Linked DNA regions of Homo sapiens: region 1 is linked to region 2. The links come from fine-mapping of genetic effects on gene expression. A gene starts in region 2. The other region holds a variant in brackets. All regions are shown on one strand. Distances are between the middles of the regions.

The links. PIP is the estimated chance that this variant, and not a neighbour inherited with it, causes the effect.
Region 1: its variant is the best candidate, but not a certain one, in a credible set for the expression of ELMOD1 in lung (TOPMed, PIP 0.66).

Annotation. Positions count from the first base shown.
Region 1 is chr11:107,609,492-107,622,141 of GRCh38, forward strand. ELMOD1 (ELMO domain containing 1) reads left to right here. Exons shown (of 12, transcript NM_018712.4): 2 at 8,614-8,715. The coding sequence starts at 8,699. Among named protein-coding and RNA genes, the nearest start is that of ELMOD1, 25 kb to the left of the region's middle. The variant T/C (reference allele first, on the strand shown) is at 5,096.
Region 2 is chr11:107,584,310-107,596,959 of GRCh38, forward strand. It overlaps ELMOD1 (ELMO domain containing 1), which reads left to right and starts at 6,838. Exons shown (of 12, transcript NM_018712.4): 1 at 6,838-7,100. It also overlaps the pseudogene SUCLG2P3. RefSeq lists silencers at 6,721-6,830, 6,891-7,030 and an enhancer at 7,281-7,340.

The DNA.
Region 1 (12,650 bases), 25 kb after region 2:
GTCCCTTCTAGTTGAGTCTCTAATTCATTCCCTGGGGTGCTTAATAGAGAGATCGACTTCTAAGAGTTAGGGTTACCCCGTAGCACTTTACAAAGAGCCTCAGGGGGCTTCTTGCTCAAAGGAAGCAAGGCTGGTTTCTTGATGCCGGGCGAGAGGATGAGTTTTCAGAAGTAGCAGACCACACTCATTACTGCCCCTTTTCTCTCAGCTGGAAAAGAAAAAAAGACAAGAGGCAGATAACCTCATAGCTTAGCACTGAAGTATCAACTGATCTCTAGGGGCGTTTGATATGACAAGCACAATCATTTGATCCTTCCCTTTGGATGAGTTCAGGCCAATGTCCCTGTATACATTGAGAAAAATTACTACAAATCAGGGGAACAGGTTAGTAAACCCAGGATTATAATCATATTCTTTATTTTAGTTAAAAATAAATCTACAGATTTGTTTTCTTCCAATTGGGAGATTTGCAGTTTGTTTTATTAGTACTGTGATTGAGTAATGCTGGTAAAAAAGTACTTTTCTAAAAAAGTACAAAGTTCATTTTGACAAGTATATATTAAGCAAGCAGTGTGTCAGGCATTGTACCCGTCCATGGGTGTCCTAGAAAAGCATACAGTCCAGAGCAGAAGGAGACATGAAACAGATAATTTTGGAACAATATTAGCGATTTATTAGTAACACAGAGCAGGTAATTCTAATGTCTCGCTTGAAAAACACCTCTAGAGAGGAAGTCTTTGGGAAGGTTCAGCACAGAGAATGATTTTTATGTTCATCTTGATTTTTGTGAAGCAGGTGGCATTAAAGTTTATGTATGAACAAAAAGGGTGAATTTTTCTATATGTAACTAATAACTGAGTAAAGCTGAATTACACAAATAAAACGTCAATATCTGGGCCAGGCCTGGTGGTAAAGTGATCACAGTACTTTGGGAGGCCAAGGTGGGCAGATCACTTGAGGCCGGGAGTTCGAGACCAGCCTGGCCAACATGTCAAAACCCCGTCTGTACTAAAAATACAAAAATTAGCTGTGTGTGGTGGTGTATGCCTGTAATCTGAGCTACTCGGGAGGCTGAGACACAGAATTGCTTGAAACCGGGAGGCAGAGGTTGCAGTGAGCCAAGATTGTGCCACTGCACTCCACCCTGGGTGACAGGGTGAGATCCTATCTAAAAAAAAAAAAAAAAAAAGTAAATATCTGTATTTTTCAATTAATGAAACAGGTATAAACCAGGCTTACATGTAACCATATTGAAGTCAACAGGCTGATGTGTAAAAACACAGGAGAAGTGTATCATGGCCGCCTCATTGTTAGAATGCTATGCAGAAGAAGAGTGAACTTAAATTCTTCCTATCCTGAAAGGGCTCTGTATTCCATAAATGATGCTGGGATAGCATGCTAGCCATATGCAGAAGAATGGAATTGGAACCCAACCTATCACTATCTACAAAAATTAACTCAAGATGGATTAAAGATTTAAATGTAAAACCTCAAACTGTAAGAATCCAAAAAAAAAAAAAAAAAAAGAAAACCTAGGGAACATCATTCTGGATATCAGCCTTGGGAAAGAATTTATGACTAAGTCTTCAAAAGCAATTGCAACAAAAAACAAAAATTGATATGTGGGACTTAATTAAAGAGCTTCTACACAGCAAAAGAAACTATCAACAGAGTAAACAGACAACTGACAGAATGGGAGAAAATATTCACAAACTATGCATCTGACAAGGGTCTAAAACCAGGCTTAATTAAACTAAAGAACTTCTGCATGGCAAAAGAAATTATTGACAAAGTAAACAGACAACAGACAGAATGGGAGAAAATAGTCACAAACTATGCATCTGACAAGGATCTAAAACCAGCATCTATAAGGAACTTGAACAATTCAACATCCAAAAAACAAATCACCTCATTAAAAAGTGGCCAAGGCTGGGTGTGGTGGCTCATGTCTGGATTCCCAGCACTTTGGGAGGCCGAGGTGGGCGGATCACAAGGTCAGGAGATCGAGACCATCCTGGCTAACACGGTGAAACCTCATCTCTACTAAAAATATTTTTTAAAAAATTAGCCGGTCGTGGTGGCAGGTGCCTGTAGTCCCAGCTACTCTGGAGGCTGAAGCAGGAGAATGGCGTGAACCTGGGAGGTGGAGCTTGCAGTGAGCATAGATCAAGCCACTGCACTCCATCTTGGGCAACAGAGCCAGACTCCATCTCAAAAAAAAAAAAAAAAAAAAAAAAGTGGGCAAAAGACACGAACAGACACTTCTCAATAGAAGACATACAAGCAGCCAACAAACATGAAGAAAATGCAAATCAAAACCACAATGAGATACCATCTCACATTAGCAAGAATGGCTATTATTAAGAAGTCCAAAAACAGCAGATGCTGGCAAGGCTGGGAGAAAAGGGAATGTTATACACTGCTGGTGGGAATGTAAATTAGTTCAGCCACTATGGAAAGCAGTTTGGCAATATCTCAAAGACCTTAAAACGATCTACCATTTGACCCAGCAATCCCACTGTTGGGTATATATCCAAAAGAAAATAAATCATTCGACAAAAAGACAAATGCATATGTTCGTCACAGCATATGTTCACAATAACAAAGACATGGGATCAACCAAGGTGCCCATTAACAGTGAACTGGATAAAGAATATGTGTTATGTATACCATAGAATACTACACAGCCATAAAATGGAATAAAATCATGTCCTTTGAAGCAACATGGATACAGCTGGATGCCATTATCCTAAGAAAATTAACACGGAAAACAAAATACCAGATGTTCTCACTTATAGGTGGGAGCTAAACATTGGGTACTTATGGACATAAAGATGGCAACAATAGACACTGGTGACTACTAGAGTTGGGAGGGAGGAGGGGAGCAAAGGTTGAAAAACTAACTATTGGATACTATGCTCACTACCTGGGTGACAGGATCGATTGTACCTAAACCTCAGCATCACGCAACATACGCATATAACAAACCTGCAAATATACTCCCTGAATTTAAAATAAAAGTTGAAATTATCTTGAAAAAATTCTCCCCATGCTTAGGTCCTGCTGAACCACTTGGGAAATGCTGGTTTGGCTATAGCAGAGGCTTAGTAGAATGAAATAGATGAGCTCAGTACCACTCATGGAAAAATAATTCAAAGGGCATTTCTTATCAATAGTGGCTCAGAACATCACACACACAGCTATGATTTGCTAAACACAGATTGTCTAATTAACAGCAAATAGAACATTAACAAGTGGGTCTCCTTTAAAACAAAGCTACTTGACTTTAAAAAGAAACAGTAATTTTTCATTTTCTATATAAAACATTTAGCATAGTTATTTAATGAATATTCTGTGAATAATGAGTTAAATAGCATTTGCACAGGCTTCTTCTGCCACCCAAAGCCATTTTTGGTGTTTCCTGTTTGGGGGACAGATAATGAGATCTAATTGTTATCTTTGTTTCCTGTTTGGGGGACAGACAATTAGAACTAATGGTTATTTTCCTTCCCTTCACTTTTCCCATTCAATCAGCAAGTCCAGTTGATTCTACCTTCTAAATATTTTTTACTTCTGTTCAGTTCTCTCCCTCCCCACAGTCATCATCCCAGTTCAGGTCACACCAACTTGCGAGAATTTATTTTAACAGTCTCTTAAGTGATTCTTCACTTGACAAAATGATCTTTTACTTTAGAGGAGAACATAATAAGAATGACAAAATTATAATACTAATAATAAATACTACTCACTGAATGTATATTAAATACCTGTAACTATGCTGAGTGCCTTACATGCTTTGGTTCTTTTAATCCTTAGAACAATCCTACAAGCTAATTTAATTACTTACCCCATTTAATCCTAGAGAGGTCAAGCAACTTGTCTAAAGCTGCCACTTGGCTAGTGGTAGATCCTAGACAAGAACTTTGTCTCCAAAACTTGTGCTCTCAACCACCATGCACACTCCCTGCCATATCTGCCAAATTTTCTCTTAATAGGAAGGCTCTTTTACTGTATTAAACTATGCTGCGTTACTCAGCACAATATTGGACACATAAACATTCAAGAAGTTTTTACAAGGGATAAATTCAAGAACTATTATGTAAAGAACGGGGAGTTAAAGTATTATTTCACTTATCTCACATCATTATGAAATAAAATTTTTTTCAGGTAAGCCAATTTTATAGTTAACTGAAATCAAACCACTTAACAGTACAGAATTGTTAAAAATTTAGATAAACTATTTCTAAAATGCAATCCATTCTTTACTACCTTAGTTGCATGAGAGTTCTTTTTCAATCATATCCTAATGACAAAGAGCTTTTGTTATGAACAAGTGTCATATATGCTACTTATTTAGTAATTCCTTCTGAACTATGGTTTTAATTACCATCTACATGCTGAGGAAGCCCAAATCTTTGTTTCCAACCTGTGTTGTCTTCCTGACCTTCAGATCCATGAATCTTTACCACTTGGTCCTGAAAACTAAAAATGTTCCAAAGACCTTTTTATACCCAGATCCCCAAATATGCTTCTCCAAAATATCATATCTTAATGAATAATTCCTCTGTCTATCCAGTTGCTGGCCACAAACATGGACATAATGTTCAACTCCCCCTTTTCCTTTGCCAACCACTGCCGCAGTCAATCAATTAACAAAGGTCCTATTGAATCTACCTTCTAACTATCTCTCATATCTTTCACACCTCTGTCTGTCCATTGCCTTATCCTGCCATTAATATCTTTGCCTGGGTTATTGCAACAAGTCTGTAGATGGTATCCTATATCTATAATTTTAGGTATAGGATTTATTCCTCATATTACAATTTATTCTTCATATTACAATCAGAGTATTTTGTTTTGTTTTGTTTTGAGACGGAGTCTCTGTTGCCCAGGCTGGAGTGCAATGGTGCAATCTTGGCTCACTGCAACTTCCACCTCCCGGGTTCAAGCAATTCTCCTGCCTCAGCCTCCTGAGTAACTGGGGCTACAGGCACACACCACCACACCCGGCTAATTTTTGTATTTTTAGTACAGACAGGGTTTCACCATGTTGGCCAGGATGGTCTCGATCTCCTGACCTCGTGATCCACCCGCC[T/C]CGGCCTCCCAAAGTGCTGGGATTACAGGCATAAGCCACCATGCCCGGCCCAGAGTGTATTTTTTAAACTAGAGATCTGATCATGTCACATCTCAGCTGGAAAGCTTTCAATAGCTCCTTATTGCTCTTCAGATAAGGTTCAAACTTCAACATTACTTACTAAGCCTGCTTGATCTGACCCTTACTTGCTTTTCCTTATCTTGCCATCACTATTTTTCCCATCCCTCTCACTGAGCACCACACTAAGTCATGTTGGAACTTTATCTCTTATACATATTCTGCACTCTTTTGCCTTTAGAGCTTTGCATGTGCTATCTGGAGAACCCCCAACCCCTACATCTAGGCTAAGCATCTCTCCTACTCACTGCCACAGCACCTATTTCCACTTGTAATACTGTATTTAAGTCCCTGTTTGTTTCTCTGTATCATCTTCTCTCCTCTCCTCCCCAAAGACTGTTGCATCTACAGGGTAGAGCTATGCCCCTTTTGTTTACCCTATAGTATCCCTAGTGCCTCACTATGTCTAGAGCGTAGCAGGCATTAACATATTTTATAAACTATTTTGAAAACAGTTTTAGATTTACAGAAAAGCTACAAAGATAGTACAGAGGGTTCCCTTATACTTTCCCCTGTTGTCAGCATCTTTTTTTTTTTTTTTTTTTTTTTTTGAGACGTAGTCTCACTCTGTCACCAGGCTGGAGTGCAGTGGCGTGATCTCGGCTCACTGCAACCTCTGCCTCCCGGGTTCAAGCGATTCTCCTGCCTCAGCCTCCCAAGTAGCTGGGATTACAGGCACGCGCTGCCACACCCAGCTAATTTTGTATTTTTAGTAGAGACGGGGTTTCACCATGTTGGCCAGGATGGTCTCGATCTCCTCACCTCGTGATCCACCCACCTCGGCCTCCCAAAGTGCTGGGATTACAGGCGTGAGCCACCACACCCAGCCTGTTGTCAGCATCTTACGTTAATATTATACATTTGTCACAACTAATGGACCAATACTGATACCTTATTATTAACTAAAGTCCTTGCTTCATTCAATTTTTCTTAGTTTTTACCTAATGTCCTTTTTTCTATTCCAGGATCCAATCAGGATAATACATTACGTGTAATAGTCATAGCTCCTTTGGCTTGCACCTCTTGGCTGTGATAGTTTCTTAGACTTTCCTTGTTTTTTAAGCTTTTCAGAGTTTTGAGGGGTACTGATTAGATATTTTGTGGCATGCCCTTGAATTGGGGTTTGTCGAATGTTCTCATGATTAGACTGGGGTTATATGTTTGGGGGAGTAAAGTGCCATTTTCATCATATCAGGTCAAGGTTACATGCTATCAACATGACTTATCACTGGTGATCTTAGCCTTGATCACCTGGCTGAGGCAGTGTTTGTCAGGTTTTTCCTTTTTTTTTTTTTTTTTTTTTTTTTTTTGAGACAGAGTCTCACTTTGTTGCCCAGGCTGGAGTGCAGTGGTGCCATCTTGCCTCACTGCAACCTCTGCCTCCCAGGTTCAAGCAATTCTCCTGCCTCAGCCTCCCAAGTAGCTGGGATTACAGGTGCCCACCACCACACCTGGCTAATTTTTGTATTTTTAGTAGAGATGGGGTTTTGCCATGTTGGCCAGGCTGGTCTCAAACTGCTGGCCTCAAGTGATCTGCCTGCCTCCACCTTCCAAAGTGCTGAGATTACAGGTGTGAGCCACTGTGCCCAGCCCTACTGTAGTTATTCTTTTTTCCCCTATCCACACTGTACTCAGAAAGTCATATGTCCAGTTTATATTTAAGGGATAGGGAGGTTTTTGTTTGGTTTGTTTTTGAGACAGAGTCTCACTCCTTCACCCAGGCTGGAGTGCAGTGGCGCATTCTCGGGTCACTGTAACCTCCACCTCCCGGTTCAAGTGATTCTCCTGCCTCAATCTCCTGAGTAACTGGGACTATAGGCACGCACTACCACACCCAGCCAATTTCTGTATTTTTAGTAGAGATGAGGTTTCTTCATGTTGGCCATGCTGGTCTTGAACGCCTGACCTCAAGTGATCTGCCTGCCTCGGTTTCCCAAAGTGCTGGGATTACAGGCGTGAGCCAGGGTGCCTGGCCTGCTCCACCTACTTGAGGGCAGAGTGGCTACGTCAATTATTTGACCATTGGGAGTTCTTTCAGTTGATTGTTGTGTTTATTTGACACACGCCTATTTTGTTTACCTTGAGCACTTCTTGACTTTCTTGTGCTGCAATATGCTTCAGGTTCACCTTGCCCTGACCCAGCTTTAGAATCAACCATTTCCCAGGGTCCCCTAGATGCCTTTATTGTTGAATGTATTAGAAATTATGATCCGAGTGTTGGGTGGGAACTAACCAAATTAAATTAAAATTTGGATTCATTTAGAAAAAACACAAAAGTACAAAGGATAATATATGTTCCCACCACTCAAAATGAATAAACGTTATTTTCCTTTTATTTTGCCTCAGATATATTTTAAGAAATAAAACACACAAAGTTGAGAAGATCATTTTTCTCCTTCCAATCCTAAACCCCACCTCTCTTCCCAAAAGCAACCACAGTCTTAAATTGGTGTATAGACAGTTTTTTCAAGCATGTATGGAATATTTACAGAAATAAACGTGTTAAATAAGAGACTGGCTTTTATTCGAGCTAAGTATGAGTTCCCACACTCTGGGCTGTTCTAGTTGGCAATGTGTCTCTGCCCGCAGCTCTTTTTCGAATGTATATTCGTTTCCTTGCATTTCTGCTGCAGTGGATGTTCCATTTCTCTCTTTTCTCATGAGATAACTTCTCTCCACTTGCAGACACTCTCTCTTCTATAGTCTGTTTTATCCCCTCTCATCCTAACTTGCTGCTTTGCAGGCTGCTCCTAGTGTCTTCCTTATCAAAAGGAAGAAGGCTGATAACCTGATGTACACTTTGTGAAAGCAAATCATAAACCAAAAAGTGCCATGCAAATATCAAATCTCACTGCTCTGTTCACAGTGCCAAAAGACAATGGGGCCTGGGGCATCATTCATTTCTTTGTAGTATCTTGCGCTTTAAGTGATTCTTGAGCTTGAGCTCTTTAACAGTTGTCTTTTATCTTGAAGTTAGTTGGTTCCAGTTATTTTTGAGTTGTACTTCTACAAAGTTGGGGCCGCCAGATACTAGACTATTGGATATCTGGAAATCCAGTTGGTTAATTTTATTGTTCTTCATTTTTATTTTTCTTAGGAATACTATTCCTAAAGATATAGGAACAATACCCAAAATAAAGGAAAAGACTGATATTGAAGAGATTGCTCATGAAATTCATAATTTCTCCAGCAAGTGACTTAAAATGAAAGGCTAATTGTATTAATATAAAGTCTATACCTGTAACCTCTATCCATTGAATTGCATTGCTCTGTGGGCAGTTCTGTTGATAATGTTCTGGGTGGCTGGCATGTTAACTGCTTGCCTCAGTAAGCAGAAATTTTTGGTTTGCAGCTTCCAGCCTTATTAGTAAATATACCTAATATCTAATTTCTTCCCACAGTTGACACTTACTTTGACAAAGGCAAATTTGGAAGCAATTACTTGAGGACAGTTCATATAGCATCTGGACAGTCAACACGGGCACCATGAAGCACTTCCTGAGGTATGTGTTTACGGTTCCCTGGCTGAGCCCTCTGCAGTGGGAGAAACCTCCTCACTGGTTAGGGTAATATTACCAGTCATCGTTTGTGATCCTGTGACCAGGACTCCTAAGATTCTGTGAAATAGCACTGCATTTTTGCTAAGAATAACTTGGCCATGAGATTCCTCTGCTAACTCTATATGCGTGCTGATGATAAGACAGAGCACTTGTAGATGGCGAGAGAGTGTGGGCACAAAAGCATGGCACTTTAGACAGCCCTGGTGCCATGTGTCTCTGCACAGTGGTACACCGCTGGCCTGAAAGGTTTAAGGAAATAGCTGTCAATGAATCACTTAATACAATTTGTGTAAAATCATTTTCTGGAAATAAGTATCCTTTTAAATATCCTTTAATTTAGATTTTGGTTGGCTGGCCAATCCATATGGGCATTTTAAAATTTTGTGGGCGGTCAAACTATATGTTCTAAGCTTCCGCTCTTCTTACCTCAGTGATGTCTCTGAAATTTGTATCAATTGTTGGTTCCCTGAAGATTGTGCTGGACAGAGTATGCCATAAATTGGTATGTTTGGGGTGATCTTTTTTAGTTTTGAAAAGCATTTGACTGGACCTAAAGTTATAATTATTTTCAAGAGTATTGACTGTCATTCAGTTGTCTATTAATGGAATTCCCAGATAAATTTTGCATAATATTAAAATACGGCAAAATAAAGTTAGTCAGGTCCTGAATGTGAGAAAATACAACATACTTTCCAGAAGATCGGGCTTCTTTTCCTCAAGATGGTGACCTGCTTCTGTTACACATTCTTGTCTTTCACTCGGGCCTGTTTTCTCTAAGCAAATTAATAGGCTTGCATCTTTTAAGAAATGATTTGATTCCTACAATGGCCATAATTTAAGATCCACTGCCCCCCACCCCAGTGGTTTTGGTTCCATTGTTGTTTCTGGAGCACCCAGATCAGTTTGTGTGGGATTCACTGGGTTTTGATGCAGCTACTGGTAGTTTACTGGATCTTCGAATTGTGAAAACCTCTCAGGAAGTTACTGTGAAACAATTTATAGTCATCAGCATTTGTTTTATTGTACAGAATACTGTTTATCTTAGCTGTGTAAAAATATAGTATTTGAAAAATCAGGAGGACATTTGCCAGCCAAGTATTTGACCTAATATGTTCTTGGTTGTCATGGTAATTAACTGATCTATCTATACATTCATGAAAATTTGGCATTTGTGCACACCTCCTGAATGTAAACATGGTGTCTTTCATCTGCAGAATCATGTTAACAGAAAGCTTTAGTGTGAGATGAAGCTTAGAATTTAGGAGCTCCCTTTGTAAAAGTGGTGATGATGGTGGTAAGGTTGCCAAGTCTTGTACTACTCAATTTCTTCCTCGATGTCTTATTTGTTTTAGAAAAACTTGAGCAGCCTCAAAACCAGTAATTTTAGGAAAAATAGTAGCCTTTGGTTCTGTTAGTTTTATTGTTAAACTGAATAGGTGCACAAAGAGTACATTTTTAAATTAATTTGTATATGATGATTTAGAACTGGTACAGTGAAAATCTACCATTGTAATTTTGCATAGACTAGCACCAAGGGTTACAGAACCAACACATCCCTATTAGTTATGTGTTCTGATAAACATTTTTTTCATGTATCTTGGAGTGTATATTTTATAAATATTATATGGCATTGATTATTTATGTGAAACTAAAGCTAGGATAACAGATTGTACATTAAAACAGAAACTTGAGGATTTTCATTGACCATTGGTTTTGAAATAATAAAAGGAAACTTGATCATTTCCCTTCTTTAGTTGATTTATTTTCTGTAGTCCATTTCCACAGATGTTGGACGATTTTGGCAATCTTTTCATTTGAACCAAAGAGAAGGTTATGTAAGCAAAGCCTGAATGAATCAGATGTTAATTCCTGAGCTCAGCAAATGTATTATGGAGAATGAGGAGCTGACTTTTCACTGGGAAGAATTCAGCATTATTTAAAAGCCCATGCAGTGATTAATCTGTCAACTTCTGAGATGTTCTAGAATGAAATGCTCCATGCACAGTCCCAGAAGAAATTAGGTTAACCTTAGAGAAACCAGGTTGTGGGAAAAAATGGATTTTGATCTACATTTAGGATACATGATACCCAATTGCTACCATCAGATATATTAATGGTATAAATATTCAGAGCAAAAAGGAATAGAGAAAATATTCAATGTATGTCAAAAATTACATGAAATATAAGGAATAAATGCTATTTGATTAGTACACCTGGCTAAAATGTGTATTTTAAATTGAGGATAGAAATGGGATATTGGGTATGTATCCCCAGACCATCCAGTCTGACTTTAGCCATGATGTGCATGAAAAGAAAACATGAGGCTGGGCGTGGTGGCTCACGCCCGTAATCCCAGCATTTTGGGAGGCCTAGGCGGGCAGATCACGAGGTCAAGAGATCGAGACCATCCTGGCCAACATGGTGAAACCATCTCTACTAAAAATACAGAAATTAACTGGGTGTGGTGGCACATGCCTGTAGTCCCAGTTACTTAGGAAGCTGAGGCAGGAGAATCGCTTGAACCAGGGAGTCAGAAGTTAAGGTGAGCCGAGATAATGCCACTGCATTCCAGCCTGGCAAAAGAGCGAGACTCCGTCTCAAAAACAAAAAAAAGAAGAGAAAAGAAAAAGAAAACATGGGAAAACATGGATAACAAAACATATCTACATGTGATCAGAAAAAGAAGGAACATTTTTTAAGTCCCAGCTAGAACAAAAGCTTAGGGTTTCATTTTTGTAATATATTTTACTAACTTTAATTCAGTTGATGTGTATAACAGAGAAGTCTGAAAACTTGTGCTGAAGATCATTTCCCTCGTTGGGATTTAGTTATTGAGGTTATATTTTTTAAAGTTATCAGAACATGATTAATTTTGGAAATTAATAAAGGAAAATTTTAAAGTCACCCATGTAAATCATTGCTTCCAACTGTTCCAGTCTCAGAATCTCAGTTTCTTGGCCCTGCATCTCACCTCGTTATTTTCCTTCCTCCAGCAGAAAAGAGGAAAGGAAAATATCTGCCAAGCTCAAACCTCTGTGGGAGGAACTGAGCAATACAGCAGACTTATCCCATGTCCCAACTTTGAGGCAATCAAGGGAAAAAACTATTTTTCTAGTATGATTAGGTAAATAAGGGCTTACAATTAGCAAAAATAACTACAAATTGGATTTTTAAGTCATTCATACTTGATTAATATCTTGGTCCACTAAGTCATTTAGTGTGCATTCATTGCTAATAATGCAAGTATTTATTCCACTTTCATTCTCTCTTCATAGCAAATGTAATTAAGTAAGACATAACATCCCATTTTACAAAGGAGGACAAGGAGGCTTAGTAAAGTTAAGTGACTTCAACAAAGGCACATAGATGTTTGAATGCAGGCCTCTTTGACTTCCAAGCTGTTTCTCATGTTTGTGTCACATTACCCCATTACTGTGAGCCCACTGTGAGGTATTGTAGGTGATTCAAAAATGAATGTGAGGGCCAGGCATGGTGGCTCACACCTGTAATCCCAGCACTTTGGGAGGCCAAGGCAGGTGGATCACCTGAGGTCAGGAGTTCAAGACCAGCCTGGCCAACAAGGTGAAACCCCATCTCTACTAAAATTACAAAAAATGGTTGGTCATGGCGGTGGGTGCCTGTAATCCCAGCTACTAGGGACACTGAGGCAGGAGAATCGCTTGAACCCAGGAGGCGGAGGTTGCAGTGAGCCGAGATCACGCCACTGCACTCTAGCCTAGGTGACAAGAGCAAAACTCCATCTCAAAAATAAATGAATGTGAGACGTCTCTGTTCCAAAGTAACACACCACCTGGTAAGAGACGAGGCGTATGCATACAAAACTAAGATATATAAAAGAATGCGATCAGTGACAGGTT
Region 2 (12,650 bases):
AGCACTCAGCAAGTGTTAAATGAAGACAGGATGTCACAGTAATCTTCATCTTTTTCAGTTTCCATAGTAAATAAGCAGGAGAAATGTCTCCATGTATATTTTGTATATTAAAATTTACAAACCAAAAATTGAGATCTATTGTCTGAAACACAATCTGACAGTGAGAGAAAATATTTGAAATCTAGATGATCTCAGAAAATTCTGAACAGATGAATGCCCTATCCATGTGTGAGTTACATTATTCATTTATTCTTCCCTTTCTCTCTCCATCTATCCAGCCATTCACTCACCTATCTGTCCCTCATCATCCATCCATTCATCCATGACTTTATTAAAGGACACCACCAACTCACATTTTCAAAAATATGGAGGAAATTTCTTGCTTTAGACTTATGAAAATAACTGCAAAGTGGCAAGATTACCTTTCTTTGCTTTAGTACAGAATTTGTTGCTAACAGCTCATATAATATAGGATTTTATTCAAATTTATAAAAATATTTAAAAATTTTTTTTCAAAATGTAAACAAAAGGAAAAGAACACATTTTATTACTTTTTAAAATCTTTCTACCACAAGCTGGCAGATTCTAGAAAAAGAGGACTGGCCACAGTGGCTCAGGCCTGTAATCCCAGCACTTTGGGAGGGCAAGGTGGGTGGATCATTTGAGGTCAGGAGTTCAAGACCAGCTTGGACAACATGGCAAAACACCATCTCTACTAAAAAATACAAAAATTAGCTGGGCGTGGTGGTGCATGCCTGTAATCCCAGCTACTTGGGAGGCTGAGGCACAAGAATCGCTTGAACCCAGGAGGCAGAAGTTTCAGTGAGCCGAGATCGTACCATTGCACTCCAGGCTGGGTGACAAAAGTGACAGAATTCTTCAGTTTTGAGATAAAAATAAACTTCTGTTCCATAGGCACAAATAAGCCTTAGTGTTTATGTTTATTGTGAGGTAAATAGTAGAAAGATTAAGTCAAATCATACAATCCTCATGTGGGGTATAAATGTGGATTTTTTGCATTAGAAAATATTTTGGAATAAAACAACCTCACAAATTTGCCATACATACCAGAATAAGAAACTTGTTAAAATGTTGTAATGCCTAATAACTATTGTTAGAATGTATTAGTCGTGTCCTTTCAATAGTTTAATATGACCAAGCCATCTGTTTGAAATGTAATTTTGCCTGAGATTTTGTCTCTAGTTTTTTAATTCTTCTAAACTAAACGTCCAGCAGAATTCTCTTAAATAACTAGGGCCTGATTCAAAGTTTTCACTATATCCACGTTGTTTGCCAAGTACTTACTGTCTATGGACAGGTTTACCATGATAAAGAACATAACATGCAAAAACAGACCATTATTTTAATGAAGATTGTATGTGAAATCAGAATTATTTAGGCTATCTGTATATCTATTCATGAAAATACAGAACAGCTTTAAGATTTTTTATTACTGATTACTGACCCTCTTCTACACCTTCCCCTTTTTCCCCAAGTGGATAGATATTTTTTTCTCAGTGATGATATTCACCCCTTTTTTTAGGATGGAGATTTCTCCTCCCAGTGGATTAGAAAGAAGAAGCATGGCTATTTCTTTGCCATGCTGGCCACAGCCTTCTTAGCTGTATCCTCCAAGTCAATGCCATAAGTAATGGGGAGTTAGTTAGATGCTATTAAGCATATTTTAAGGCCCCTGGACATTGAATCCTTCAAACTTGACCACCAGAGGGGCCATGAGTTCTAGTTCTCAGCAGTGTTTGATGATGCCATTGGCAATGACAGCAAAATTCACTATCACACCTAAAACAATGTTGACGGTGATTTCAAACTTAGGATCAGCAATGAGCAATTTAAATGTTTAGTACACCTGAGCTTCCTCTACACTACTGCTAATATCTAAGAAGTTGGCTGGGCTTTGATCATTAAGGGTAATAACGTCTCAGAGAGCCATGTATGGCCCAGCATCACTTAGTAAGGATTCCCATCTAGTTTTAATTTTAGATCATATCTGGTTGCTTCATTTTCGATAGACACACCTTGAATTTGTTGGCCATGCCAAATATGTTTTTTGTGGACATTCTGCATTGTCCTCAAGGTTTATCATGACATCAAAATAGACAACCTATCATTCCAGAGTTTCACCAAAGGTTTCACTTCAAGCTAAGTAGCATATAATTTCAGGAAGCAGTAAAACAGCTGGTTAAGCCTGATTTTTGTAGACCTGTAGAAGCCTACATTTTCTCCCCTTTACTAAACTTGACTGTTCTCTATGCCCTCAAAATGTAAATTTCCTCCTTAAAAATAAATTCCGGTAAGAAGCTGCCACTTATAACGCCTCTCCTGGAGGCTGCCATCAGTAAAGGCCATTGCAGGATTAGCCCATTAAAACTTTATTGTGGGAACATCACACCCAGTGCCAGTTACGAAATATTCTAACTTTTACCCTGTTTTCTGACATCAGTTTCTTGCTCTTAGGTACCTGCAGGAGCAGCCATCTTTTAGATGTTAATTCAACTCCCTTGGACTTCTCTGAAAGGAGTGGGGCCTGAGCACCAGCATTCACAAAATTTTTTGACCTGCATTGTCATAGGAGAATGACACCTTAAACAAAAACCAGGCACAGAGGAGTCTGACTAGGTAACTGAGATGAGAGAAGAAGGGACCTTTTTTCCTCATTTTATTGAGATGGGTCTCACTATGTTGCCCAAGCTGGTCTCAAATTCCTGGGCTCAATTGATCCTCCCACCTCAGCCTCCCAAGTAATGGGGACTATAGGAAACAGCCACCATGCCCAGCGAGAAGGGTACTTCATACAGATTTAATTCTACATTGGAAACCAACCTTGAGAAAAAGCCTACATTGTGTGTGTGTGTGTTGGGGCAGGGAGCGGTGTGTATGCTTCTGTCCAGATCTGAGTTCCTGAAAATCATAGTGTCTTATCCAGCTTTGTATCCCCAGTATCTAGTATAGTGCCTTATATATACTAAGTGCTTAATAAATGGTTATGACATGAATTACGGTTTGGATGAGTCCTTGTGCCACTGGAAACCCTCTCGAGATCACATTTAGAGGACTGCCACAGCAGCATGTCTGAGAGTCTTAGTTTGTTTAGTTTAACGCATTCTCTAACATGATGATTAACCCTCATGTAATCTCAGTCACAATTTTATCACTATAGATATTAATGAGCATGTTGAATCCAGCTGCTGCTGTGGTTTTACGTCCAGAATACCATAAGCCTATAAAATCCATTCCATTGGAAAGCAGAGTGGCCTTACATTAATTTCTAAGCTTTACACAACAATTAGGCAAAATTAGACAAGACTTCATGCTTTTTAAGTCCAAAGATTCCCTTTCTAGTTTTATTATGAAGCCAATACATCGAAGAATACTTTCCTCCCACAGTGCTTAAGACCAGTGCTAGATTACAAATACATAAATGGGCCATGACTTCCACCCCACCCACAAAATGATCCAGGCAGGAAATTCCAACTTGCTTGTCCATTGCTCAATCTACCCTTTGCTAAAGGAAGACATTTCTAGGTGAGGACATTTATAGTCAAATAAATTCTAAATGATAATGTTCAGTAACAGATCTTCTGAGCAAGGAAATATATCCACCTGTCTGGAAAAGACTCAAATTCTGTGTCACTTGTAATGGGCCAGTATGGAGTCTAAGCTGATGACAAAGCATCTCCTAGCTCTTCCCCTTCCTCTTCAGCTCTCCGGCTGTAACTCTGGGGAGGCTGTAGAGGCACAACATTCTCCTCTCTGGATTCTTCACTCATTACCTGTAAATGCTACATCACATGATCTCAGTTTCTTCAAATACCCTCTCTGTTGACTGCATGTTAATCTGTTCAATAGGTATTTTTATCCCAAAATAATGCAGGACCCAGAGGTGGAGAAATCTGTGGATTTGTGGTGGAAGAGAAATTATGAAAAGAAAAACTGAGCCAGATCCTGGTGAAGCAATTCTAGGGTTAGCAAGAAAACCAATTAGAAAAGAACTATAGTCTAAGGAGCCACATAGAGTTGAGAACCTGCTTACATTCATTCATTCCTTTCACACTTTTCCTTGAGTATCTATTACATATTGGTCATCTGCTAAGTTCTGTAATACAAAGATGAATGAGACCCTCCCCTTGAATTACTCACATTAAACAGTGGCGAGATTGTCTCTAATTGCTATGGCATACATGTGTACAAATATGCTTTGAAGAAGTCAGTTCTAAGTGATACCAAGGCTGCCTCACACTTAGACAATAAGAGAATCAGAGAGAAAAGCTTGTCATTCAGACAGTAGGTAGATTCAAACAGAAGATGTATGACAGAGAATAACTATTGACATAAATAGAGGCCAAAGATGGTGAAAAGGTGAGAGGGTGGGAGTGGTGTGCAAGACCCTGGAAGAGACTTTTGGGATGCAGGAGATCTGGGGATCCAGGTTGATTCTGGACATTTTAGAAATGCCATTCCTAAAGGTTAGATAAAGGATATAATTTGTTGTGGAGATTAAACTCTCTAGCCCTCCCCTACCATTTTCCATTCATCACATGGGATTGCAGCTACCTACCTTGAGTGGTTTGAGTTTAGGAAAGTTTTAGCTGAGGGAATCAACTGAAAGGAGTAAAAGTCACTGGTTCAGCAACAAACTGGCAGAGATCCATGTCCATGTCATTTGTTTGGCCTAGAGCCAATATTAATATTTTTATTGATGTTTTTTGGAAGGATGAGTCAAGACTCTATAGCGTAATTTGATGGATAACACAAAGACAAAAATTAACAGAATTACTAGACTTCTGTCCTTAGTGATTATTTACAGTTTAGGTGTTTATTTTCTGTCTTTTTCAACTAGACTGTAAGTTCCATGAGGGCAGGAACTTTGTCTTGTTTGTTCTTATTTTCCTAACATGTAGAATGGCGCCTGCAAATAACAGTTGCTCAGTAAGTAGTTTTACATTGCTTGAACCACAGTGATAGGCTGTGATGAGTACTGTGATAGCAGTATGCACTGGTGCTATGAGAGCACAGCATTCACTCTGTCTTGAGGTTCAGGGTAGGCTTCAGAGAGAAGGTGACATTTGAGCTTGAAGAGTGAGTAGCACTTCATGAAATAGAATGAGAGAGAATGGTATTTCTTTTTTTTTTTTTTTTTTTTTGAGAATGGTATTTCAGAAAGGGTGGAACACCATGAATAAAGCAATGTGTTATTAAAAAAATAGTATGTTTGGGGGATAATAAAAAGTTTATCTTTTGAATTCTGATACTTAAATAGTCAACAGTATGCATGGGAAGTAAATTTCCTTCCATACAGGCATACATTACTTCATGCAATAGTTGTGAAACAAGGACCACAGGGAGATGCAAGCAAATTACGTTTAAAAGACTATGGAGTAAAATTCTTTTGTCAGGTGGATTAATCTATCCCTAATGAATCTCTCCCGAGAAGCTTTTCCCTCCAAAGGTCTATCTTTTTCCAAGACGTTTATTCAGGGAGGTATCCTTCATATCTCCCTGAAAAGAAAGAAAAGTAAATAGTGGCTAATGCTTTTAACAATGATTAAAAAAATCAGAAAGGTCAAGGCTTTAAGGTCATTTAATGTGAAGAGGAAATAAGATAAATGTTCAGCATTTAAGGATTATCACTAACCCAACTTTTCATAAACACAGAATAGTGGAGGTGGAACCTGCAGAGACTTTTATTCAGGGAACATCCACTGCGGGACAGGCAGATGCTTTGGTATCCAGGCTGCTCCGCGCCGCCAGCTGCCCAAGTAATCCTCACAACAGCCCGCAGAGGTAGGTATTAACCACCCTTTGTTTTACAGGTGAGGAAACAGAGGCACAAGACGGTCAGGTAACCGGCTTGGAGTGATGAATGAAACTAAAATAAGCGCCGACCTCGAAGCTCATTTGGTCTTTCCCCAACCCCATGCGGCCTCATTAAAGAGACTTTTTTGATTAGCTATGGAGAAAACGTTCTTCATCAAACATGAAATGCAATCCGGAAGGCACAGGTTTCTCTCTCTCTCTCTCTCTCTCTCTCTCTCTCTCTCTCTCTCTCTCTCTCTCTCTCTCTCTCTCTCTCTCTCTCTCTCTCTCTCTCTCTCTCTCTCTCTCTCTCTCTGTCTGTATGAAGTGGCTTCTGGGGCCCCACGAAGCAATGTTCCCCCAAACAGCCCCGGACGAGGGTGTCTATAATTCATCCTGTTATAATTAACCCCGGGGTTACGGTATTGCTTCTAAAGCCCTTGTTGAAATGCAGATATGGACCTCGCAGGATTGACACGATCTCTCAATTACACCTAATTAAAGAGCTGGCTCTTTGAGAATCTGACCCGACTGGGCCAGGAGTGGGAAAGGCGGGGGCTGCCGGTTGGGGTGAGGGATAGGGTTCTGCAGTCCCGGGAAGGCAGGTGAAGGGTGGGGATCAGGATTGGAAGAGTCACTGGGTGCTCGGTGAGACGAGGGAGGTTGGAGCTGAACTAAAACAAAGTTTGACTTCTGGACAATTATCCAGGGAGAGGGCGGGGAACACACCTTGCCCGGACTGTCTGGGAATCCCATTGACAGGTCATCTCAGGTTCACCATCTTCCTGTCGTGGGCTCCTCCAGGGAGGCCACCCGGGAGCAATTAAACTGGGCCACACCAGCCACCTCCCACAGCAGCGGGGTCCGCAGATTTAACCCTTTCCCCCCAGATTCCGGCACTGGGTGCCGCGCTCTCTCCCCCAGCACCGCGCCCGCGCCCCCGGCTCCCGGACTGGGCATGCTCAGTAGCCGCCCGCTTCGTGCTCCCAGGGAAGCCTCTGCACGCCCTCCCCCGCTGCTCTCGGTCGCCTCCTCGCCGCCAGCCGCCCCGGGTGCATCCCGGCTTGCTCCGCTCCACGCGACCCAGATTCCTGCCCCGCCCCCGCCCCTTCCGCGCCCGCAGCCAGTGCGGCAGCCGCGGCCGCCCCTGTCCAGCCTCGGCGCCCGGGACCGAGCGCGTCGCTCGCCGCCGCGGAGCGCGTAGCCGGAGCGCCTGGGGAAGGCGGAGATGAAGACCACGCCGCCGCGCGCCGGGAGCTGCTGAGCCTACCGCCGCCAGAGTCCAGGTGATTGGCGACCCCAGAGGAGCCTAGGGAGTAGGGGCGAATGCCCTTGGGGAGGAGAGAGGTGCGGCGAGGACGCGAGGCATCACGCAAGCTGCGCTGTGCCTGGGAGGCAGCAGAAATGCTAAGCATCGGGGGCAGAGAGGGAACGGGAATGAAAGTGCACTCTGCCTTGGTGCAGGGGCTCCGGGGTCACCCAGGACAGTGATTTCCCCTTCTATCCTGTCCTCCCAATTAACACCCGAGAGGCTGCAGGTCGGCGCGAGAGGCTGTTTGCATCTCGGCCCGGGCGTAGGTCGCCTAGCGACCTAACGCCGAGGGCTCGGGGAAGGGATCCCAGACAGAGCCAAAATGGAAGGCGGGACAAGGGCGGCCTGGCTGGGGCGAGGGGCTGGTCTGGGTCCCTGGGAACCCCTTGCCTTGTGGGCTTCGGTCTCCAGGGAGGAGCTAGGCAGCCGGGCTGCGGGGCCGCCGGACTGTGGGGTCCTCCGCGCAGCGAGCTGGGAGGAGCGGTCGGCTGGGCTGTTGAGCTGCGCCTCCTCCAACTGCTGGGAAACTCCGCACTTCAATATTGGAGCATCTCTTTCCCGGGCAGGTAGAATTGGACAGCCGAGTGGGGAGTGACAGCTGACAGCTGACGGGGCTGTTAAAAGCAGAGCAGTGGAGTGTGGTGGTGGGGTGAGCTGTTGTGGGTGCTTTTTTTTGTTTTCCAAGTGTGGGTACGGGCTGTTCTGACTCAGTGTTTATGCTCAACCTCTAAGCGGCGAGTTCGGTAACACATCTTATGAATATTTCAGGAACGACCTCACGGGCTCACTTGCTTCAGATCAAGTTTAATGAATATGTTGTCAGCCTTTCTGCTCTGCACAGTGCCCTGAGCTTTCCACATTTCATCCCTTTCCCCCACCACCTAGGAAAATACGCTGCTAACCCCCAGTGGGCCGTAGATTGGTACTATCAATTGAGTCTGTCATTTGGAGAGACCAATTTTGGGCAGGCATCCAGGCATTGTTCTGCATCTCTGCAATGTATACGTTTTGTGCCGGTGGCTTGACAACCGTCCTTAACTGGTGCTGCCAATATGGTGGAAAGCAGGTAGTATGCTTGTATTGGGATAAATGTCTTAATTCATTAACCTATTATGACAACACGTAGTTACAGCAGACTTAGTCATTCCCTCCCCCAGAAGTTTTCTCGGGGGTCAGTTTAGTTGGTATTTTGCCAAAGGCACACTCTTGTATCTACATTGGGAGGTATTTCTCTCATCTTAATCTTTTTCATAGGAAGAAGAAATAAATGTCTTCTCTGTAAGACATCACTGTCAAGAACACTGAAAGAAGAACCCATTAACGTAGGGAACGTTGAGGACTGGAACAGGTTGTAGGGCGTCTTCCTACACTTTGGGTTATAACTTCCATTGCATCACCACCATTTACCAGTAAACCAGCACACACAGCAATCAGTACTCGAAATGGTTCTCTTTTGCAGAAAAAGCCTGCTTTTCTCCCAGCTTTGGTGAGATAGATACGTAATCTTCGTAAAGACCTATAAGGAATTCCTCTGTGGAACAAAATTTTAAGCCTCCAGTACAGGATGCTGAAAGAAGCAACTCTTTAATCTTGCCAGCCCATGCACAGTGAAGCTGAAGTGCTTCAATTTACAGATGTTTTACATTTAGGGAAGGCTTTTCCAACAAAGACCTACCGCAGTTACATCACAGGCTCCACCTCCGCCTGCCAGGCTGCTTCTGCAAGGCTGTTAGTAAGGATACTATGTATTGCTGTGCTTGATTAATGAAGAAAATAAATCTCCAAATCAAAGATTTGTTTATTTCTCTTTTTGCATTCTGCTGATTTAATTGAAAATATGAAAATTTCAAAAATTAATACTTGCAGCCAGGACTTAACTGAGGCATGATAATAACTCTATAAATGTTAGCTTTCCAAGAGATCTTAAGCAAAATTACAGTATTCTTTGTAAAATCTTCGATAAATTGTATTATAAGAAAAATTCTATGAAATGGACAAAATAAGTGAAAATGTCATGTAATAAATTAAGCAGCATTTCTTAAAGCACGTTACTGAGATGTTCAGAAAGAAACCTAGTTGCATTAACAGACATGAAATCTGGATGATTGAGAAGTTTGCGGAGCTTGCATACAAATCCCCAGGTGCATTAAAGGAAGCGTTCTCCGAGTCCTCTGAGAATTTTTAACAAAGCACTGTTAGGTTTTCCAGATTTAGCAAATAAAAAGGTGGGCTGCCCAGTTAAATTTGAATTTCAGATAAACAGTGAATTATTGTTTTTACCTATGTCCCATGTAATATTTGGTACGAACTTATACTACAAAATATTATTAGTTGTTTATCCTAAATTCAGTTTCGACTGGGCAGCCTGTATTTTTCTGGCAACCTTAGTTACTGGAAATGTTTCATTCCTCCTTTTTGGGTCATTTATGGGTTGAAAAAATAAAGTGGAGCAGAAATCATATGCTGTTCTGCAGACAATCTGGGACAAGCTCAGTTCTGGTTCAAGCTTTTGAAAATAACTCATGCTTAAAAGTGAACAGTTTCACTTCAACACATATTGGTTGGGTATCTCTGCTTGCTAGGCTTAGTGGAAGGTGCCAAGGATGCAAAGATGACATGGGGAAATGGGGCAGGGGGAGGGATCTGCATCATAAGTTCTGGGAGTTGCTGTGCCAGTAGTGTGTGTTTATGGTGGTGGTGGAGGGGCGTGTCTACTGTAGGAGCCTAGAAGAGGCACTGAATTATGCTGGGCAGCTGTAGTCAGGGAGTGAGACGCCTAGCAGTTTTGACAGGGCTGGCCTTGAATAAGAGAGCGAGATCTTATCCTGGGCGAAAATGAGAAAAAAAAAAAATCTCTGTGTTAATAGTTAGTAGAGTGGTGCTGGAAGTTGAAGGATTTGATCTGATAGCCTCAGTGAGAGGACAGAGTGGCCTGCTGAGAATGAGGGAAGGGAGGGGGATTCTGAAAGAAAGATTTTAAATAGTTGCCAATGGGAATGGAAGAGAGAGCTGAAAAGGGACAAGTGCAGGAATTAGCAAATGGTACTTCGGTGAATGGACCTCAGTGCATTTAAAATAGCAATTGATCTGCTCTTGACTCATACCCTAAGTGCTAGTTTACTATTCTGTTACCATCTTGGTCTCCTCAGGTAAAAAGTTGTCATCACACAATACTGGAATATATCATTTAAATGTTTTATTACAATTATATAAAAGTAGATAATTAAATATAATATTTGAGATGCCGATCAATAGTCAGTTTCTTCTTGGCACAAATTTCTGAAATAAGATAAGCAGATGTCTTGGTTTTAGCAAATCTGTTGCTTCAAGTAGGAAAAGAAATTAAATTGAGATCATTTCTGATTTGATCCAGCTATCTTTAAAAAACTAGATTCTGATGATGGAAAGAGTGTACATTTTACAGAAATAGCACTATGTGAAAATGACTCTATGCTTGTAGTACCACAGAGGACCTAGTCAGAATGTTCCAAATGCAGTTAATTCCAAAAAACTGGCACACCACATACATGTGTGTCTTTGAAGACCCAGAAGCTACTTTCATTATTGAATAACGTGGTAAATTTCCAGGAAAGTTGATGATCAAACCACTGCAGTCCATGTAGAGAACAGTTACTCATTTCTTGAAGATTCCAATTTGCAGACTCCAGCAACTGATAATACAATGTCGTTCTAGATTGCCCTTCTGTCAATAAATCTGTTTTTTTTTTTTTGGAACCATCCTTCAGAAGAGCCTCATGTGTTTGAGTGTCCATATGTGTGGTTAAATTTCCACTTCAATTTTATAATAAGGTCTTAAAATTATAAAAATTACCCTATACTAAAACTTATAACTAAGTAGCTCATTAGGGTCTTTTTTCTCAAATGATTATCCTTTCAACAGAGCAGAAAACAGTTCTACTTCAGGTTTTTCTACTGTTCCTGTTTGCAATGTTTGCCAAACACATTCTGCCTTATAATTCTGATAGTATATGATAAAAAAATATGATCAAGAATGTATTGATGTTGCTAAAATTTCAAGGCAATTAGGCCATAGGTTTTGTTTTCAGCAAGGCTTCGCATGAACACGGCTTATTAAAGAAAGGCTTACTGCAGTAATCCTCAATGACAGTTTATGTGGAATATCACCCAGAGAGAACCTTAACTGAAATTGTGTGCCCAATTTACATTTTATATTCTAAGTCCTCAGTGGATACTCTGAATTTAAAGATTCTGAAGACAGTATGTTCTTTCATCCTGGGAGCTTTTAACCTTCCAACTCACTTATGCTGACCATGAGCAAGTCATATTTTATATCAGTTTCTATGCTGTAAAATGGAAGGTATGCAAATTAAAAAAATAATATTGTGCCAGCCCTAATCTCAGTATCTATAAAATAAACTCTTAAGTGTTTCTATGGTTCCAAGGGATGAATAACTTTATTCTCAATGAAAGTAGATGATTTGTACAATGTCTGGGTACTCTATATGATATTTAAGATGCCATCAAAATAATTCACAATTTGATTTTTTTTGCTTTTTTGGTGCAAGGCAAAATAATTGTGGCAAATGCCTAAGGAGAGCTTGTTAAGCCTTTTTAAAAAATCAGTCTCATGCAAGGCAATAACTGTAGATTCAAAAGTCTTTACATAACTTTTAAATGTTTCCATTTTAATTATTGGGATTAGGACTTGGGTAATTAGAATGCTGGTTTTAAGAGCTCATTTCAGCTGTTATAACTCTCCTTTCTATTTTTTATTTTTTTTGTGTACAAGTAGTTGGTGAAAGGCTACCATATGTTTTGAAGGTTTCATTCATAATGAAACTAATAATTTATTTATCTCACAGCTGTTTTTTGACTTAACAGATATCATCAGTGACATCAGAAACTCTGTTCCCTAAATCTTTTTTACTTTACCAGTTGGCATTATCAATATTTAAAATGTGAATTAATCAATCTTTGGAATGAATTTACTGTACATTTCTTACTTTTTCCTTTAAAAGAATAGGAATATTCCGCTCTTCAGAATTTGGAAGCCAGATTTTCTGAAGATTCCATATTCCATAAACACTGACATGTTAATTTCAGATTTCCTTTGCTTTATAATCCACTGAAATGAGCAAAAACTTAAATAATTGCTTTTAGTTGAGAAGCTCAATTGTACATTCTCTTAAAATGATAAACATTTATCAAAGCTATTTAAATTAAAATGCCTATTATGTACATCATTAGTCATAATTTTAAAAGCCTTTATTAAAATACTTTACATAGAATTTTGACTTTCATATTCTGTCTCATGGATAATGTATATGTAGCCCAATATGTGAATCCAATATATTAAAATCAAGACTTATGAAACAGATGGGTTGAGTTATAGTTTTTACTTCACTAAAGAGTTTTATGCTGTACCAAAAATTTCCTCTACTATTCCTTTAAACTGTAGATAACCTGGAATATTTAAAATAGAGGCAGAATTATCAAATTTTTATATATACACAATCCCTCTAGCACACATTTATCAGCTAGA